2 linked regions of the Homo sapiens genome follow. The protein of the gene in region 2 binds, or shares a complex with, the protein of the main gene of each other region. Each region holds a gene or a part of one and is shown on either strand. Other genes may lie near its edges.

Evidence for each region. Proteins that work in one complex are often made in the same cells at the same time.
Region 1: HEATR3 (region 2) and RPF2 share a complex: the UniProt entries of both Homo sapiens proteins name them as parts of the hexameric 5S RNP precursor complex.

Annotation. Positions count from the first base shown.
Region 1 is NC_000006.12:111,006,018-111,013,044, forward strand, and holds part of RPF2 (ribosome production factor 2 homolog), read left to right. Parts: intron 1-2,020; coding exon 2,021-2,120; intron 2,121-4,203; exon of another isoform or gene 4,204-4,246; intron 4,247-5,814; exon of another isoform or gene 5,815-7,027. UniProt on the Homo sapiens protein: Involved in ribosomal large subunit assembly. May regulate the localization of the 5S RNP/5S ribonucleoprotein particle to the nucleolus.
Region 2 is NC_000016.10:50,082,949-50,089,975, reverse strand, and holds part of HEATR3 (HEAT repeat-containing protein 3), read right to left. Parts: intron 6,040-7,027; coding exon 5,949-6,039; intron 5,869-5,948; exon of another isoform or gene 5,843-5,868; coding exon 5,685-5,842; intron 5,408-5,684; coding exon 5,325-5,407; intron 3,762-5,324; coding exon 3,625-3,761; intron 1-3,624. UniProt on the Homo sapiens protein: Plays a role in ribosome biogenesis and in nuclear import of the 60S ribosomal protein L5/large ribosomal subunit protein uL18 (RPL5). Required for proper erythrocyte maturation.

The sequences.
Region 1 (7,027 bases), on a different chromosome or scaffold from region 2:
CTGGTCTCAAACTCCTGACCTCAAGTGATGCGCCTGCCTCAGCCTCCGAAAGTGCTGGGATTATAAGGGTGAGTCACCGTGCCCAGCCTGTTTTGTATTTTTTTGTAGAGACCGTGTCTCCCAGGCTGGTCTCAAACTCCTGGGCTCAAGCGATCTGCCCTTCTTGGCCTCCTAAAGTGCTGGGATTACAAGTGTAAGCCACCACACCTAGCCTATAGCCTTCATTTTTTTTTTATTGAGATGGCATCTCGCTCTCACCCAAGCTAGAGTGCAGTGGTGCAATCTCGGCTCACTACAACCTCTGTCTCTTGGGTTCAAACGATTATCCTACCTTAGCCTCTGGAGTAGCTGGGACTACAGGCGTGTACCACCACGCCCAGCTAATTTTTTCTATTTTTAGTAGAAACAGGGTTTCACCATGTTGGCCAGGCTGGTCTTGAACTCCTGACCTCAAGTGATCAGCCCCGTCTCTGCCTCTGAAAGTGGTGGGATTATAGGCGTGAACCACTGTGCCCAGCCCATAGCCTTCATTTTAAAATACTTTTTATAGGGTATAGTGGGAAAGGCACAGTGGTACAAATAAATTATAATTAAACTTATTTATTCATGAGACAAGGTCTTACTCTGTCACCCAGGCTGGAGTACAGTGGCACGATCATGGCTCACTGCAGCCTCCACCTTCTAGGCTCAAGCGATCCTCCTACCTCACGTTCCGAGTGGCTGGGACCATAGGCACTCACCAGCATGCCCAGCTAATTTTTAAAAGTTTTTTTTGGCCAGTTGCAGTGGCTCATGCCTGTAATCCCACCACTTTGGGAGGCCAAGGCGGGCAGATCACCTGAGGTCGGGAGTTCGAGACCGGCCTGACCAACATGGAGAAACCCCATCTCTACTAAAAATACAAAATTAGCCAGGCGTGGTGGCACATGCCTGTAGTCCCAGCTACTTGAGAGGTGGAGGTTGCGGTGAGCCGAGATAGCGCCATTGCACTCCAGCCTGGGCAGCAAGAGTGAAAGTCCGTCTCAAAAAAAAAAGGTTTTTTGTAGAGATGAGGTCTCACTGTGTTGCCCAGGCTGGTCTTGAACTCACTCCTGGCCTCAAGCTGTCTTCCTGCTTTGGCCTCCCAAAGTGCTGGGATTATAGGCATGAGCCGTCACACCTGGCCTTAAATTTATTTTGATTCAGGGTTGCTGGCCATCAGAAGTCTATTTTGGTTGCTTGGTTGGTTGTGTTGTGTTATGTTTTGTTTTGTTTTGTTTTCCTTTTGCAAGAGTAACTTTTAATTTTATTCTTTGCGTAGACTAATGTTAAAAAAGCCCTTTACATCATTCTTTTGCCATCTTTTATTTGGTAATGTAAATGAATGGAACAAATAATTTTTTTTTTAGTATAGAAGTCTAGAAGCTTAAAAATGTCATCTTAGCCAGGCCTGCACCTGTAGTCCCAGCTACTTGCAGGATGCCTTGAGCCCAAGAGTTTGAGTCCAGCCTAGGCAACACAGCGAGACCCTGTCTCTTTAAAAAGAAAAAAAAACCCACCTCTGTTTTTGCCTCTAATATCAGTATTCACAGACATCATTTTGGAACAGTTAATAAAATGTGAAAATAAATTAGTGTAAAGTATTGACTACTTTAAAATCAGTATAGGCCAGGCACAGTGGCTCTCACCTGTAATCCCAGCACTTTGGGAGGCTGAGGCAGGCGGATCATTTGAGGTCAGGAGTTTGAGACCAGCCTAACCAGCATGATGAAACCCAGTCTGTAAGAAAAATACAAAAAAACTAGCCAGGCATGGTGGTGTGCACCTGTAGTCCCAGCTACTTAGGAGGTTGAGGCAGGAGAATTGCTTGAACCCGGGAGGTGGAGGTTGCAGTGAGCTGAGATTGTGCCACTGCACTCCAGCCTGGATGACAGAGTGAGACTCCATCTCAAAAAAAATAAATAAAAATAAAAAACAAAATCAATATATAAACAGTTTAGACTTTGGTAATTATATAATTGCTTTTTTTTTTTTTTTTTAGAACAGTAAATGTCCTGAGGGAACAAAACCCATGCTGATATTTGCTGGCGATGATTTCGATGTAACAGAAGATTATAGAAGACTAAAAAGTCTTCTTATTGGTAAGTATTTTAGTATTTATTATCTTCAGGGTAGCTCAGGAAGACAGTCTCAGACTCTCACTGGTGGCACTTTGCTACTTTAGGTTTGTAACTTCTTTTTTCTCTTATTTTAAAAATAATATTTATATACTTAAAATAATGGAGTGCTTCACAAATTTGCATGCCATCCTTGCGCAGGGACCATGCTAATCTTCTCTGTATGGTTCCAGTTTTAGTATATGCGCTGCCGAAGCGAGCACAACTTCTTTTTCCTCCTTTTTTTGGACCTTTCTCTTTTTTTTTTCCCTTACCAGCAGCAGGAAAGCACCTAAGTATCTCGGGAGAGTTAAAGCAGCTGTTGTACTGTGTAGATGATTATTTCTGGATGTGTTAGTAACTTAGGTATTACTTGTATAGTGTTTTATAAAATTCCTGCACCCATCTCCTGTCATTCCTAGCATCATTTAAAATTAAATTTAGAAAGTTGAGGGATTAAAATTTCAAGATTGTTTGTATCACCGACTTCCAACTCAAAAACCTTAATTAGTTTTTCTGAGTTGAATATACAAGGCCTTTCACAATATATAACCAATGTAGCTTGGCCTTCTTGATCTCCTATTGCCTTCTTTTTTTCCATTAGAAAGGGTTTATTGCCAATATATTATTCACATTTCTATTGTGTATTCTGATATTGCTCTTATTTATCCAGTTTCTACTATTCATTTAAGTGTCAGATCATCAAGTTTCTTTTCCGGGAAGCCCTCAGTGACCTTCCTGGCTCCTTTTTTTTTTTTTTTTTTAAAGATAGAGTCTTGCTCTGTTGCCCAGGCTGGAGCACAATGGTGTGATCTCGGCCCACTGCAACCTCCACCTCCCGGGTTCAAGCGATTCTCCTGCCTAAGCCTCCCGAGTAGCTGGGATTACAGGTGCCCGTCACCATGCTGACTAATTTCTTTTGAGACGGAGTCTCGCTCTGTCGCCCAAGCTAGAGTGCAGTGGCGCGATCTCGGCTCACTGCAAGCTCCACCTCCCGGGTTCACACCGTTCTCCTTCCTCAGCCTCCCGAGTAGCTGGGACTACAGGCACCTGCCACCATGCCCAGCTTATTTTTGTATTTTTAGTAGAGATGGAGTTTCACTGTGTTAGCCAGGATGGTCTCAATCTCCTGACCTCGTGATCCACCCGCCTCGCCCTCCCAAAGTGCTGGGATTGCAGGTGTGAGCCACTGCGCCAGGCCTAATTTTTTTTTTATTTTTAGTAGAGACAGGGTTTTGCTATGTTGGCCAGGCTGGTCTTGAACTCCTGACTTCAGGCGATCCACCCTCCTTGGCCTCCCAAAATGCTGGGATTACAGGCATGAGCCACTGCGACAGGCCCTGGCTCATTTTTACTTTATTACCATCATCATCCTAAGTGCCAGGCATATAGTAGGCACTTCATATACACTGCTTCATTCTAACAAGAACCTTGTGAGGTTGTTCTACAGATAACCCACACCTAGCAAACTATGCTAGTTCTAAATGATTTGTGTAATGAATATAAGGACTACATCCTTTTCTATTTTTTTCTCCTTTATGAGGCAAGTCGTGTTCTGATGCCCAGGCTGGAGTGCAGTAGCTCAATCATGGCTCATTGCAGCCTCAACCTCCCAGGCTCAAGTGATCCTCCCACCTCAGCCTCCTAAGTAGCTGGGACCATAGGCACATGCCACTATGCCTGGCTAATTTTTAAAATTTTTTGTAAGATGGGGTCTCACTGTGTTGCCCAGGCTGGTCTTGAACTTCAGGGCTTAAGCAATCCTCCCACTTCAGCCCTCAGAGTGCTGGGATTACAGGTGTGAGCCCCCACACCCAGCCTCCATGATTTTTAAAAGGTTATTAGTACTTAGCATTCTGCAATTATATTTGCCAGCTCTTTTATAACTCTGGAAAGTAATTTAATTTTCCAAGAGATTGGTACTAATTTAAAGGGTCTTGGGTCTGTCTCTCTGTCCCTCAATTTTTTTTTTTTTCTTTTTTTTTTTTCTTTTTAGACAGCATCTTGCTCTGTCACCCAGGCTGGAGTGTACTGGTGTGATCACGTCTTACTGCAGCCTTGACCTCTTGGGCTCAAGCAGTCCTCTACCTCCTGAGCAGCTGGGACTACAGGTTCACACCACCATGCCCAGCTAATTTTTATTTTAATTTTTTGTAGAGATATGGGTCTCCCTGTATTGCCCAGGCTGGTCTCAAACTCCTGAGCTCAAGCAATCCACCTGCCTCAGCTTTCCAAAGTGGTGAGATTACAGGCATGAGCCACCACACCTAGCTCTCTCCAATTTAAGAAAATCTTCTTACTGAATTTTTTGCTTCTTTTCCCTCATGGGGATTGAGAGATTCAGCTTTTCCTGCACAGTACACTGATACTCTCAAAGCAGCAGTCCTTTATGGTCCTATTTCACCTTAGTGTTGACAGCCGCGAGGCCTCCATCTGATGCTCAGTGGCCTTGTCTACTTTATTCCATTTGAGCTTTTCTTGCACCATGCTTACAAGCTTATGCTACACTTCTTGTTACCCTTGTTTTAAATTTTTATATACTTTGCTGTAGATCACTTTTGAAAAATTGATGGGGTATAAAATTACGTTGTATGCACATGCTTTACAAATCTGAGCCCACCAAAAAAACTGTGACAAATACATTGCTTTCATTTTCCCTTTTTGGGATTATTTATGGTCTTTATTGTCAGGATTATAATTTTTAGGGGAAAAAAAAACACGTCACCCATTCTTGGGATTATAATTTTTAGAATTTATTTCCCGTATTAGTAATAGCTACTTTTTAAAAAAGAAACTAAGAACCACTATTATCTGTTTAATCTTTACAAAAGTTCTTGAGTTTGATGACATTCCCATTTCACAGATGGGAAAACAAACAGGGGCTCTGAGAAGTTAAATGAGAGCTATTAAGTAGGTAAGGCCAAGTTGAAACCCAACGCTTCCAAAGCCTGAGCTTTTCTTCCCCTACTGTCCATCTTGCCTGTGGTAAACATATTCCCATGATCCCTTCTAGAATCTTTATAGGTTCTTATCCATATTTTCCATGAATTAAATTCATACATGAAAGACAATGACTAATATTTCCTTCTCTCAATATTATATATCCCAAATTATCAAGGGTATTTTTCTTTCTTTCTTTCTTTCTTTCTTTCTTTCTTTTTTTTTTTGAGACATAGTCTCACTCTGTTGCCCTGGCATGATCTCAGCTCACTGCAACCTCCACCTCCCAGGGTCAAGCAATTCTCTTCCTTAGCCTCCTTAGTACCTGGGACCACAGGTGCATGCCACCACACCCGGCTAATTTTTTATATTTTTAGTAAAGACTGGGTTTCACCATGTTAGCCAGGCTGGTCTTGAACTCCTGACCTCAAGTGATCTGCCTGCCCTGGCCTCCCAAAAGTGCTGAGATTATAGGTGTGATCCACCGTGCCTGGTCAAGGGTATTTTTCCAGCCAAAATGTCAGCCAGATTTTCAGCTAAGATTTCCATTACTTGTACTCCATTGACCTAGATTTTCTGCCTTTTTCTCTTTCCCCTAGGTCTCCCATATAATTGTTTATTGTCAGTGAGGCAGATACTTACAATTTGTTATAACAGAGAGAGCTTTTGTTTGCATTTGTTTAAATGTTTTTTGTATTTTAATAAGCCCCACCTTCTCATTATTTTGTGCTTCCACTAGATGGCAGGAATGATCACATAATGCAGTGGTGAGGGGAAGGGAGTGAAAACCAAAAAGGAATCTGGACAGAAGCAGAAAGGTAGAAGAGGAACAGATTCAGACTGTAGGGCACCAAGGGAAGTTGAGTTTTCAGTATAAATATGAAGTAAAACAACTGCTCTTTGGTTTATGTTGTGTGTTCAAATGAAATATCAGTAGGGAGCAAGAAATGTATGAAGGGCTTTCATTTAGGAAGTTCCTTTTTTTTTTTTTTCTTAATTGACCAGAAAGAAAAGTTAACTTTTTTTCATGCAAGATACCCATTTTGTTCATTCTTAATTTGTTTACATCATTTTTTTTTTTTTTTCTTTTTTTGAGACAGGGTCTCACTCTGTTGCCCAGGCTGGAGTGCAGTGGCATGATCATGGCTCACTGCTGTAGCCTTAACTTTCTGGTCTCAAGCAATCCTCCTACCTCATTCCCCTCAGTAGCTGGGACCACAGGTACACGTCACCACGCCCAGCTAATTTTTTTTATTTCTTGTAGACATGAGGTCTTGCTGCATTGCTTGGGCTGGTCTCAGAGTCCTAGGCTCAAGCAGCCCTCCAGCCTCAGCCTCCCAAAGTTGGAGGTGTGAGCCAACATGCGTGGCCTATTCTTCCCTTCTTAAATGGTAGCATATTATATATATGGTTGTTTAAAAAAATTTGGAGTAGAGGAATTTTTAATTCTGATTTTCATTATACAATTGAGAAAACTGAGGCCTGGACAGGTGAGTAGCTTTTCTAAGGTCATGCATTTACCAAGTGGCATATTAAAGTTTTGAACTTAGGTCTCTCCAAAGTACATGCTTTTATTTCTTATTTGTTTATTTTTTGAAATGGAGTCTCACTCTGTCACCCAGGCTGGAGTGCAATGGAGCAATCTTGGCTCACTGCAACCTCCGCATCAGCTGTTCAAGCGATTCTTCTGCCCCAGCCTCCTGAGTAGCTGGGATTACAGGCATTCACCACCATGCCTGGATAATTTTTGTATTTTTTGTAGAGACAGAGTTTCGCCATGTTCGCTAAGCTGGTCTCAAGCTCCTGGCCTCAGGTGATCCACTCATCTTGGCCTCCCAAAGTGCTGGGATTACAGGCATGAGCCACCGTGCCCAGCCATGCTTTTATTTATACAGTATTATTATACTTTAGGTTATCAAGTTCATAAAGTTATTTATCATACTTCTTGGTCA
Region 2 (7,027 bases):
TATCATCTCTAGGACGGGCACGGTGGCTCATGCCTGTAATCCCAGCACTTTGGGAGGTCGAGGCGGGTGGATCACAAGGTCAGGAGTTCAAGACCAGCCTGACCAACATGGTGAAACCCGTCTCTATAAAAATACAAAAATTAGCTGGGCGCATTGGCAGGCACCTGTAATCCCAGCTACTTGGGAGGCTGAGACAGGAGAATTGCTTGAACTTGGGGGGCAGAAATTGCAGTGAGCCAAGATCGTGCTACTGTACTCCAGCCTGGGCAACAGAGTAAGACTCCATCTCAAATAAAAGAAAAAAAAAGAATATCATCTCCAAATATAAGCGATTATCCTTTATCAAATTCATTCTGATAAGAAAACATTCTGTTACTCCAAAATAAATAACAATGACACTACTTTTCAAGTCATTTTGATTCTCCATTTCTCCGAATGCCAATATTAGGTGATACGAAGGCCACAGATGGGATACGAGTATGGGCCCCAAGCAAGCTGGACAGCCCAGAGGTATTGTAATGGCCCTCTTCCCCCAGCAGTAACCATCCAAACCCATTACATAGGCAAGGCCAATTCAGACTACCAATCCCTGGAAGTAACTGAGCACATGTCATTAGGTGAATACATTTTCAAAATTACTGTTGTGACAGTAACGTGTGGTAGGCGATTTCTACATAAATATCATCAAGACCCTCAGGATACACAAAAGCATTCTTAACCTAGCAGCATGTCACATTCCTGAACCTTAAAAAAAAAAAGATGATGTCAAGAATAGACATGAAATGGGAATTTATTTAAAATCAAAGTGCTTAGTTATATTTTCCCACAATTCAGAAACTTTCCATTATTTCTCCAGGACTCAGCTTGGGGCAGTTTTCCTGTGATCTTTGCAGTTAATAAATGTGCTGGCCTCAGTGACCACAAATAACCAGCAGAACCAAGAGAAACATATCTGAGTGCTTTCACTATAGCACAGGCACACAGGGAGTTTGTTTCAAGTGAAATAACCTCTGTGTGCTGCCTGGGGATGGGACCGGGGGTACCTGGACCAGACTCTCAGTGAGAAATGGCCCAGAGCTGAGAGATGGCAGCTTGTGGAACCAGGGCTGCCAGGGTTACCTAGAGCTTAGGTAGGGCTTGGAAGCAGTGAGAGACTTGGGGTCCTGCTCACCTGGGACCCTGGCTGTGGACTCCCTGCCTGGCTCTGCCCCCTGCCTCTACTCAGGGGAATGGGTGGGGGTGGGCATGAGCAACAGCAGCCCTCTCACTCCCACCCCACAGGACATCTTGCTGGGCTGATGGGAGCCAGAATGCTTGCAAAAGTTGGGGAAAGTCCCCTCCCCGTTTACCATCCAGATCTCTTCCAGGTTTAGGAGGCTAGGAGACAAATACAAAGCTACAGCCATCATCTGGTCTGCTCACACTGACGAGCTGCCTCTGTACTCCAGTGCTTGTCCCGTCCTGCCCTGGAATGGGAATGGGACTAGCACTGCCCATATCCTGACTATATCCTGTCCTGGGCATGGCTGGGCACAGCTTTCATGGGATCATTCCAGCCAATGAATGCACAGCCAGGGAGTACTTGAAAGGTACACCTGTTAACTGATCAATGTTGAAAGGGTGGCAGAGACAGCTCAGTAACCACATATGGGTTTCTGAATATTTAATTACTTAATTTTTAAAGATTAATTTAGAACTTAAAAAACATGTACCATTAAACACACAGCACCTCTTAGGAACTTGACGGAATGTAAAACAGATGTCTAAAGAACTGGGGACCAACACTTGAATGGATGTTGACACAAAAACTTGTATTTAGTTAAAAGTGACTCTCTTTTGATTTTTTTTGAAACGGAGTTTCACTCTTGTTGCCCAGGCTGGAGTGCAATGGCGCGATCTTGGCTCACCACAACCTCCGCCTCCCGGGTTCAAGCGATTCTCCTGCCTCAGCCTCCCGAGTAGCTGGGATTACAGGTGCCTGCCACCACGCCTGGCTAATTTTTGTATTTTTAGTAGAGACAGGGTTTCGCTATGTTGGCCAGGCTGGTCTCGAACTCCCAACCTCAGGTGATCCACCCGCCTCGGCCTCCCAAAGTGCTGGGATTACAGGTGTGAGCCACCGCGCCTGGCCTGATCTTTTAAGAGTTCAATTCTTGGACTTAATGTTGTGTCTGAAAAGGAGGATAAAATATATGAAGAATACACTGAATATAACACAATGGAATTATCTTATTTGCCAGTGTAGAAAGCAAATATCTTCACGTTTACCCTCAAAAAATCCTGAAAGACACCTGGAACCTCAGCAGCTGAGAGAGAGGGGCAGATTCCCACCTCCCAGGCTACCCTCGCTCCAGCAATGGATACTGGGTGGAGTAATGTGGAGAGTTTTCCTTCAGTATAGAAAACACCACTTGTTCTTCTCTCTCAGTCTCTCTTGTTTTTGTTTGGTTTGAGCTCCTATAGTTTAATGTGGTCAAATTAAGTAAGATTTTACTATGAGGAACTATGAAAATCTGTTAGAAGAACATGCATTGGACTTTGTACAGCTAGTTTTTGTTTTTTTTGTTTTTCCCTCCAAGTGAAACCTACAGCTAGGTCATTTAAAAGAATATTTAATTTAACTCTTGTATCGCTATAGATCTTTGTGTGCATATGAAATTAATCCGTATCAGAGACCTGTAACTTAAGAGAATCAGCTCCTACCATGCAAAGGTGTTTGAAGAAAGATACATGTTAGATGATGGCAAGGTGTAGAATTGTGTGGATGGTATTCTACCATTTGCCTTACACACACGCACGCATGCCCGCATACACACGCTCTCTTATACATGGAGAATCTCTCTGGAAGGATACACAAGTAACTGGTGCAACAGTAACTTGACTCTGGGAGAGGAACTGGGTGTCGGAGAAAGGAGGGAGGCTTTCCAGTTTCTGTCCTCTAATAACTTTTGAATTCTGTACTACATACATATATTAATCAAACTTAAATGCTTGTAACTGGGAAGAAAATAATAGAATAGTACTCAATTATTATTATTATTATTTTGAGATGGAGTTTTGCTCTTGTTGCCCAGGCTGGAGTGCAATGGCACAACCTCAGATCACTGCAATCCCCACCTCCTGGGTTCAAGCGATTCTCCTGCCTCAGCCTCCCGAGTAGCTGGGATTACAGGCATCTCCACCACCACGCCCAGTTAAAGTTTTGTATTTTAGTAGAGCGGTTTCATCATGTTGGCCAGGCTGGTCTCCAACTCCTGACCTGAGGTGATCCTCCCGCCTCGGCCTCCCAAAGTGCTGGGACTACAGGCATGAGCCACCGTGCTTGGCTGAGAATTATCCAAATACCTTAATGAGGCCTTTATGATATTTATGATACAGCCTTGACTGGCCTGATATAACTGGATGCAAACAATTTTAACAAAAAAGAAAATTATAAGCCCAGGAGCTGCTTGCATACCTCGTTTTGACTCTGTACCCCATGGCAACTATAAATACATGATTCCTGTGTCTGGGAAAGGTTTCTGCACATTGGATGACAAACAATATACATTTACAAAATCCAAATTCCTGCCCCTTCAAAATTCTGTTCCGTCTGCGTAGTCTTTCGCAATAAAGTCTAAATACCTGGTTGAGAAAAAAGCAGCTGTGACAGATGCTGTGCAAGCGTCTGAAGGGCTGCGGCTCCTCCCAGGTGCTCCACATCCAGGAGGGACACAAGACTCTGGAGACAGAAGAGGGCTCTGCACTGAATAGTGTTCATTCTGGAAAGGAAGTGAAACAATGCCATCTGATTCTCCAGAAGTTGCCCATCAGAATTCAGTATTAACTTTTAGCCTAAGCTTCACGTTCTGACTGGAAATATCTGTAAATACAAGGTATCTATGGCAGTTAGCAAAGAATCACAAGGTGAACTGTTTTTTGTGTTTTCTAAAATTTATCATCATTTTTTAGACAGGGTCTTACTCTGTTGCCCAGGCTGGAGTGCAGTGGTGTGATCACAGCTCGCTGTAGCCTCAACCTCCTGAGCACAAGTGATCCTCCTGCCTCAGCCTCCTAAGGAGCAGGATTACATGTGCATGCAACCACACCTGGCTAAGTTTTTTATTTTTTGTAGATAGGGGTCTTGCTATGTTGCCCAGGCTGCTCTGGAACTCTTGGCCTCAAACAATCCTCCTGCCTGTACCTTCCAAAGTGCTAGAATTATAAGGTGAACTGTTAATCTGCCAAATCAAACTGCTTGAATATTCACGGCCTCTGATACACAACTCATTCATGAGTCATGAGGAATATGTTTTAGAAAAATTTCTATGTAGGGTAGCATCCTTAAAATTATAATTTTCTTCAGACAGGGTCTCATTCTGTTTCCCAGGCTGGAGTACAGTGTCACCATCATAGCTCACTACAGCCTTAGACTGCTGAGCTCAAGCAATCCTCCCACTTCAGCCTCCTAAGTAGCTAGGACTACAGCTGAGTGCCACTATGCCAGGCTAATTTTTGTATTTTTTTTTCCTTTGTAGAGATGGGGTCTTGCTATGCTGCCCAGGCTGGTTTCAAACTCCTGGCCTCAAGTGATCCTCCTACCTTGGCCTCCCAGAGTCCTGGGATTATAGGTGTGAGCCACCATGCCCAGCCTAAAATTATTTTTAATTGTGAAATGTGACATATATACAGTTAAGTACACAACATACATAGAGAGTTTAACAAACAGTCTATGAAACCAAAACCCATGCACCTGGGAAAGAAATTAACACTGCTGGACCCTGAAAGCCCCTGTATCTCTTCCATATAATATCCCACCTCCCTGACACCTACAGGTAAGCACCATACAGACTTCTATGGTAAACATTTCCTTGCCTCTTTTTTTTTTTAATAGGTTTATCACCAAGGTATGCATCCCTGAACAAAATAGTTCAATGTTGCCTGTTTCTCAACTTTGTAAAAACTGAATCACAGTGTGTGTATTCTTTTATGTCTCGCTTTTTTGGTTCAACAATGTAAGTTCCATCCGAGTTGTGAGTAGCTCTAATTCAGATCCCTTTTACTGCTGCATGTATTGTACTGCGTGATTTTGTCAAAATTTATTTACCATTCTAACTCTGATGGACAACACGTTTGTTTATGGGTTGGGGCAACTGTGACACACACTGCTATGAACACTCTCATATACATGTATTCTAGGGCATGTGGGCACATATTTTTCTGGTATATATACCCAGGAACAAAACTTCTGGGTCCTAGGGGGAGTCAGCACCTTCTATTTAATAGCCCATCATTTCATAAAATAAAATAATGACAAATGTTTTTGAAAGCAGAAGAGTTCTTACTTTCTAATCAAAGGTTTCCAAGTAGGGTTCCTAGAACATAGGTCAACTGCAATGCTGTTTGGAAAGGCAGTTTTCTCAAAAATCTAGATTTAAAAGAGGCAGTAAAGCAAAGGTTAAAGAGTAGTCATTTAACACGATTCCCTTACATAATTCCAACATATTACTCCTAAGTGAAATGGTTAGGCTTCATATAGAATGACCTTTTCGCCTATTTCCAGTACTGTTAGGCTCAGCTTTGTCTCAGATCTTACCACCATCTACAACCTGGAAGTGTGAGCTTGCTTCTTTTGTACACAAAATGAATACCTTGCTTAAGCCTTTCCCATGCTCCACGGTAAGCCTAGAATGAAAATGGATTACCTTCTTTGGGATGAGGTAGTTGGTGAGAGCCGTGTGAACTTCATGGGAGAGGCAGAGGGGAGAAAACAGCTGTCCCCCGCACTCACTGAAGGAATTCTCCATAAATGCGTCACTTTCATCACTGCTAGAAAGCTCTTCCCATTCGTCATCAGAGGGATCTGGGAAGCGGGCAAACCACGCAGAACTGGAATAGTTAAGAAAATCTCCACGGGAGTTTCCCTCTTGGCTCAGGGGGAAAATGTCTAAATGTAAATGTTAACAAACCTTCATTGCAGCACATGTTGACAATAATTTCCAGAGCAGTCTGTTGGGCTGTCAGCAATGCTATAGTCTCTCTCAGTTCCTTGTCAGTGGGCTTAAAAAAAAAAAAAAAAGTAAATGACCAACTCTCAATGGTTGGGAAAATGTTTTTGGGGAATTTCCTTAGTGAAAGCCTACTAGAAGATTTTTGCGCTTGGAATAGAGCACACGGGGAATGGGGTAGGTAAAAGAAAAGTCATGAAGTGCCAGAAGTACAAACGAGCATTATAATTCCTCTTGGTACAGTGGAGCATGCCCCCGTTAACTGGGTTTCCATCTATCTGCATGGCTATTCCCCAAGCGTCACTTAGTTAGCTGGAGAGAACAGACAAATATTCAGGAATTCTGAACAGAATTCACCCTGAAACTTATCTACTGTGTCAAGAAGTAGCTGGGCATACTAAGATTTAAACAAGAGTTCATTTCAGACACCAGGCACTTAGAAACACCAAACCTGCTTTTAGATGCTTAGCTTAGATGTCTTTCTTGGAATGGCTGCGCTAACACACACTACTAACGAGCCCTTATGTGACCTGTAGAACTTGCTATGGAGCAGACAGACTTGCTTCCTGCCTTTCTGTAAAGACTATAATAAAGCATTTCTCTAAGACTAAAGAAAGAAGGAAGCTTTTTTTTTCTCTGAAAATATATAACGCCAACTTAAACTTAACATTATCAACCAACATTTCTTAAAATGGGTAATATAAATTTATATAACCTTAATTATCAAATTGTCTATGGAAAGTGAAATAACCATACTGATATTCCAAAACAGTACATGAGCTAAAAATAATGTATATTTTACTATTTGAATATTTCCAAACTTCAGTTTTCAATTGTCTTTTTTTTTCCCCCTTAGAGACAGAGTCTCACTCTGTTGCCTAGGCTGGAGTGCAGTGGCACGTTCATAGCTCACTGCAGCCTCAAATTCCTGGACTCAAGCAATCCTCTTGCCGCAGCCTCTGAGTAGCTAGGGCTACAGGTGCATGCCACCATGCCTGGCTAATTTTTTTAATTTTTGTAGAGACAAGGTCTTAGCCAGG